2 separate regions of the Homo sapiens genome follow, and region 2 is linked to region 1. Evidence: fine-mapped expression QTL. Tissue or cell type: substantia nigra. Region 1 holds a variant in brackets; the other region holds the start of a gene. All regions are shown on one strand. Distances are from middle to middle.

Region 1 (2,500 bases):
TTAGAGACAGGGACAATTGTCTCCCTTCCCCAAGCCTCAGGGACCCTTCCCCAAGCTCCAACCCCATCTCCAGTTTGTTTTTTCTGTCTCTGTTTCTGTCTCTCTCTGTCTCAGCATATGACCCCGCTCCTTCTCATCCAGCCCCACCAAGGAACTTGAAGCTCCCCCTAGGAGTCTTGCCTACTCTAAGCCAGCCTCCCCTCTCAGGCTCCATCATTTTCCCTCCTCTCTCTTTTGGGGCTCTCTCCTGACAATCTACCCCTCCTTTTCCTTGTATATTCATCTTCCTCTTGATATACCAACTCCCTCTGCTAAGCGTCTCCACAGCCTCAACCCTCTTCTGTCTTTAAACAATCCTGAGCCATGAAACAGCATTCTTACAAGCCTCCCTGAGCCTCCGTGCCCCCAGGGCCCCCAAAGTTCTCTTTCTTCTTCCTTTGGCATCAAATTCACGCACTGTCTCACCTTGGCATGGCCATCCTCTCCTTAACTCCTCAGCTTGGTTTAGCTCTGACTACTCCACTGAAATTCCTCTCGGTGAGGTGGGCCATGACCCATCAATTCTGGCTTCCATGGCCAGTGCCAAGCCTCATCTTCACACCCCCACTCCTTCCTCTGTTAAGCTTTCTCCAACCTCCTGAGGCACCAGTGTCTCCCAATCCCCTTCCTAGCTTACTAGAGACTCCTTCAGCTTCTCTGTTACAGAATCAACCTTCTCTGCTGCTCCTTGGAAGGTGGGGATCCTCTGAGCAGACATCCTCTCTCCCCTGCCTTGTCTTCTCATTCCAAACACTCACCCTGGCAAACTGACCCATGTCTGGGACTTAATTGTCACGTTTTTGCTCCTAACTCCCAATGTCTAGCTCTAGCCCAGACCCTCCTACCGCCGCCGCCATCACCTCTGTCCATCTCCTGGACACCAGGAGCCAGGCAGGTTTCAGACTTGCTTCCTCGTAGGGGTTCTCTTGGTGAATGGTTCCACCAGTGCGCCCACATGAAGGCACCTGGAGGGGACATTTGTCTCTTGGTAGCCCGTCATATTTCCTTTTCCTCCAGAACATCTGCCTTGAGCTTGAGGAATTGTTCATTCATCCACTTAACAAATGCTCATTCATCTGGGCATGATTCTAGACCCATGGTTCTTAACTTTGGTGGTATGTGGA[C/T]GTGCCTTGAGAGATGGAAAGAATCCTGGTTCCTGAGTCCTGCCCCCGGAGATTCTGATTTAATTGCTCTGGGGCAAGTGCTACACAGTGAGATATTTACAAGCTCCTTGGGTAGCTTGAATGTGCAGCCGGTGTTGCCACTGTCCTGGGTGATGGGGGTACAGCTGTGAGCCAAGCAGGTGAAAATCCTGCTCTCTTAGAACTAAGAGTCGTGTGTGTGTGTGTGTGTGTGTGTGTGTGTGTGCGCTTGGATGAACAGGCAGTAAATAAAAAAGTAAGACAAGAAAAATATCAGCTGGTGATAGCACAACTGAGAGGATGAAAGTTGGATGGTGCCAGAGTGGCCACTTCAGTGCTGTGAAAAGATAACAGGGAAGAATGCTGAGCCATCGGGAAGGGGCTCTGGCCAGGGTTCCTGGCCTGTAGGGGCAGCCCTGAGCCCCGGGGCCATGTTGGGCCAGGCTCCTAGGACAGCTCTTTGTCTCTTCTCAGCCAAAGTCTACGTGGGTGTGAAACAGGAGATCGCCGAGATGCGGATACCTGCCCTCAACGCCTACATGAAGGTACCAGTGGGCCTTGCCACCTTGGCACGTGGAAGGGCATGCAGTATTGGTGGGGGAGCCCACGTACCATCCCTGGGTATGGCTTTGGGAACTGGGGCTGGCTCTCTGGCTCTGATGGCCCCATCTTCAATCCCTAAAGGCCTGGTCTGGGGAGTAAAACAGGATGCGTCCTTAGGGTTCCAGAGATAGGAGCAGGAGCAACGGAGAAGGTAAAAGAGCCACACTAGGAATTGACAAGTCTTCATTTAATGCTCCAAGCCCCACAGGTGAATGTCTATGCCAGGAGTTAAAATACAAAGGTGAATTCCATCCAGTGTCTGCCCCCAAGGTACCCACTGTCCTATGGGAATGCCAACAGGTGGATCATAAGATCACACGGAGACATATGTGTGCCTCCATCATGGGGGTGTGGCCAAGCAGGCCGCAGGTTGCTCATATAGCATCTTTGTGCAAACTAGAGTAGGCCTCCTCTGGGACAACTCACTCCCTTACGTGAACATGGGCTGGATTTTAGCTACACTCATGGGTCTTGGCTGGGGGCCCTTGTGTATTCTCCGACTTGCAAACTCTGCATCTCTATGAGATGGGAGCGTAGAGGAAGGAGCATCTTAAAGGCAGAGGCCAAGGTGGTCAGGAAAGGACTTCCACCAGCCACAGCCATCCAGGAAAGGGGCAGTGTTCCTCATGAGGTGGCAGTGAGTGCACCGTCGCTAGAGACCTGATAGTGACCTCAGGAAGCTGGCAAGCGAAGCCCTCCTCCCAGCCCAGCGGCAT
Region 2 (2,741 bases), 320 kb after region 1:
GTTGGGTGGGCAGGAAGCCGGGCAAAAAGACCTTTGAGGTGGTGCAGCTTCTGGGGGCTGGTGCCGAGTTATCACAGGATCAGAAACTCTGCTTTTGAAACCAGACTGGTTTTTACACTTCTGGCGTTTCTTTGTTTATTTCCTTTTTGTTCTCCTTTAACATTTAGTAGAATTCAAAAATATTTTTTTTGTGGTTAATACATGTAGACAAGGTACAATTATTACTTTTTAAAATGCCACCCTGTCTCAGCTGAGCACTGAGGTGAGGGCAGAGTTTTAAAGGGGCAGGATGGCCAGGTGCAGTGACTTACTCCTGCAATCCCAGCACTTTGGGAGGCCACGGAGAGAGGATCACTCGAGTCCCGGAGTTCGAGACCAGTCTGGGCAACATAGTGAGACCCTGTCTCTATTTTTCAAAAATTAAAACTAAAAATAAATAAAGCGGCAGGAGCCCTGCCCCCCACCCCCAGAGCTGGATGGTAGCAGCAGGAGAAGGGGGCTGGACAGGAAGTCTCCAGAGCCACCTCCCTCTTCCTGGAGGTGACTCTTCCCAAGCTTCTCTCTGCCCACCCTGGTTGGGTTCCTGGTTCTGCTCAATAAGGAGGTCAAATCCTCAGAGATCAACATCCTCCCTGTCTGAGACTGTCATCCTCAACTTTTACTTATAAATGACAAATCCCAGTGGTTTTGGAAATCCCAAAATTCCCTTCTTTTTCCCAGCCACAGATATGACCTCATGAGAAAAGCTGAGGTCTTAGAGTCAAATCTGAGACCCAGAATAGTTTGCAAGCTGTGTGACCTAGGGCTAGTGGCTGAACCTCTCTGGGCTTCCTGCTCCTTGATACTTACAAGGAAATGACACCACCCTTTCCCTCCCAGGTAATTTGGAAGGATTTCAATGCAGGAAAAGTGCCTGCCTTATAAAAGACTTAAAAAAAAAAAAAAAAGTGTGCTTTGACTTCTTCCCTGTGCCTGCATGGGATGGGAAGGAGAACTTCTCCCAGAGGACTGGCATGGTTTGGGAGCATTTCTGTTTCCTATTGGCCCCAGCGGATGGGAGTCAAAGGCTGTGAGACACAGAACCGTGGCCTGGGAGCAGGAATCAGGAAGCCGTTAACGAGGAATCATAACCACAGCCAGGATCACGAACTAGCTCTGGGGGTGGGTGCCAGGCAGGGACCAAGTGTGGGAACCAAGTCATAGGGAGGACTTTTGGGGTCCTTGCTGCTTCCACTGGGACCTCTTTGGGGAGGGAGCGGCAGGGCAACTTTTCTCGGTCCAGGCAGGCCGTGCAGAGCTGAGTTTGTGTGTGCCCGGGTAGGGGCGGGCACAAACCGGGAGCAGTGGAGCGCAGCCCTCAGCCAGAGGCAGGAGGAAATGTGGAGGGGAGAGCCTGGAGAGGCTGTCCCAGTCAGAGGGAGAGAGCAGGGCCCGAGATGCTTCCAGGAAGCAAGGAGGGAGGAGAGGAATTCCAGGCTCTGACCCCAGCCCCCAAGCTTGAGGAGCCTCTGGTCACTCACCCTGTGTCCTGTGGCCTCCCCAGGCGACTCACGGACCCTGAGCCACTGCATGGCCTCTGGCTCCTTGGCCCATGTCTGCAATACTAACTTGTTGCTGGCCCAGACCCCCAGGCCCAGCAGAGGAGGGAGAGAGGAGGGGATGGAGGGAGAGAGGGCGGAGGGAGGGCGGAGGGAGAGGGCAGAGCCGCTTCCCACTTCCCCTCCTCCCTGCTCCCTCCCTTTCAGCCTCTGGGTTCTGCGGAGATAAAGGGAGGCAGGGATTTCCTTTGCTTAACTCTTTGGTGATCCAGTGGGGTCTTGCTTGATTCAAAGGCCTAGAAAGTCAGAGCAGGCAGGAGTCTGAGGCCCCCTGATGATTGGGAAATGGACACAGGCATGGGGCACAGGAGCCCCTAGGTTGCTCAGGAAGGGGGAGGCAGCCCTGAGTCCACCCTGAGCTAAAGTGCTTAACTGCTCTGAGTCACAGAGGCAGGGTGGGTAGCAGAGAAGGTGCAGGTGTTGGCCCTCCAGGCACAGGCTAGAATCCTGGCCCTGCTACCACAGTCGCGTCGCCTCTCAGAGCCTAGGTGTTCCAGAACTGCAGTCCTCAGCCCCCTTTGTGCCAGGCACATGGGAGGGCTTAACCCATGTTTGTTGGGTGAATGACCAGGCTGACCTCCTCAGGTATCATGCAAGTGTTACCAGAGAGGGGTACTGATCAGACCCCAAGAGAGAATTCTTGGATCTTGCACCAGAAAGAATTTGGGGTAAGTCCACAGAGCAAAGTGAAAGCAAGTTTATTAGAGAAGCAAAGAAACAAAAGAATGGCTACTCCATAGGCAGAGCACCCCCAAGCACTGCTAGTTGGCTATTTTTATAGTTATTTCTTGATCCTATGCTAAACAGGGGTGGATTATTCATGAGTTTTCCAGGAAAGGGGTGGGAATTTCCTGAAACTGAGGCTTCCTCCCCCTTTTAGACAATATAGGGTAATTTCCGGACATTGCCATGGTATTTGTAGGCTGTCTTGGTGCTGGTAGAAGTGTGTTTTAGCAAGCTAACACATTTTAATTAACATACAATGAGCAATAAGGATGACCAGATGTCACTTTCATTGCAATCTTAGATTTGGCAGGTTTTGGCTGGTTTGTTTACCGCATACTGTTTCTCAGCAGGGTCTTGATGACCTGTATCTTGTGATACCAGTCCTGCCAACTTCCTATCCCTTCCTGTGACTACAAA

Evidence for each region. PIP is the estimated chance that this variant, and not a neighbour inherited with it, causes the effect.
Region 2: C1QTNF6 starts here. The variant in region 1 is fine-mapped to the expression of C1QTNF6 in substantia nigra (GTEx, PIP above 0.99).

The regions. Positions count from the first base shown.
Region 1 is chr22:36,865,737-36,868,236 of GRCh38, forward strand. NCF4 (neutrophil cytosolic factor 4) reads left to right here. Exons shown (of 10, transcript NM_000631.5): 4 at 1,656-1,726. All of the region lies in intron 1 of NCF4-AS1 (NCF4 antisense RNA 1), which reads right to left. Among named protein-coding and RNA genes, the nearest start is that of NCF4-AS1, 3.5 kb to the right of the region's middle. The variant C/T (reference allele first, on the strand shown) is at 1,164.
Region 2 is chr22:37,186,643-37,189,383 of GRCh38, forward strand. C1QTNF6 (C1q and TNF related 6) reads right to left here and starts at 1,605. Exons shown (of 3, transcript NM_031910.4): 1 at 1,521-1,605. The coding sequence starts at 1,571. It overlaps IL2RB-AS1 (IL2RB and C1QTNF6 antisense RNA 1), which reads left to right. Exons shown (of 2, transcript NR_199008.1): 2 at 1-180. RefSeq lists enhancers at 709-1,344, 1,345-1,978, 1,979-2,614, 2,615-2,741.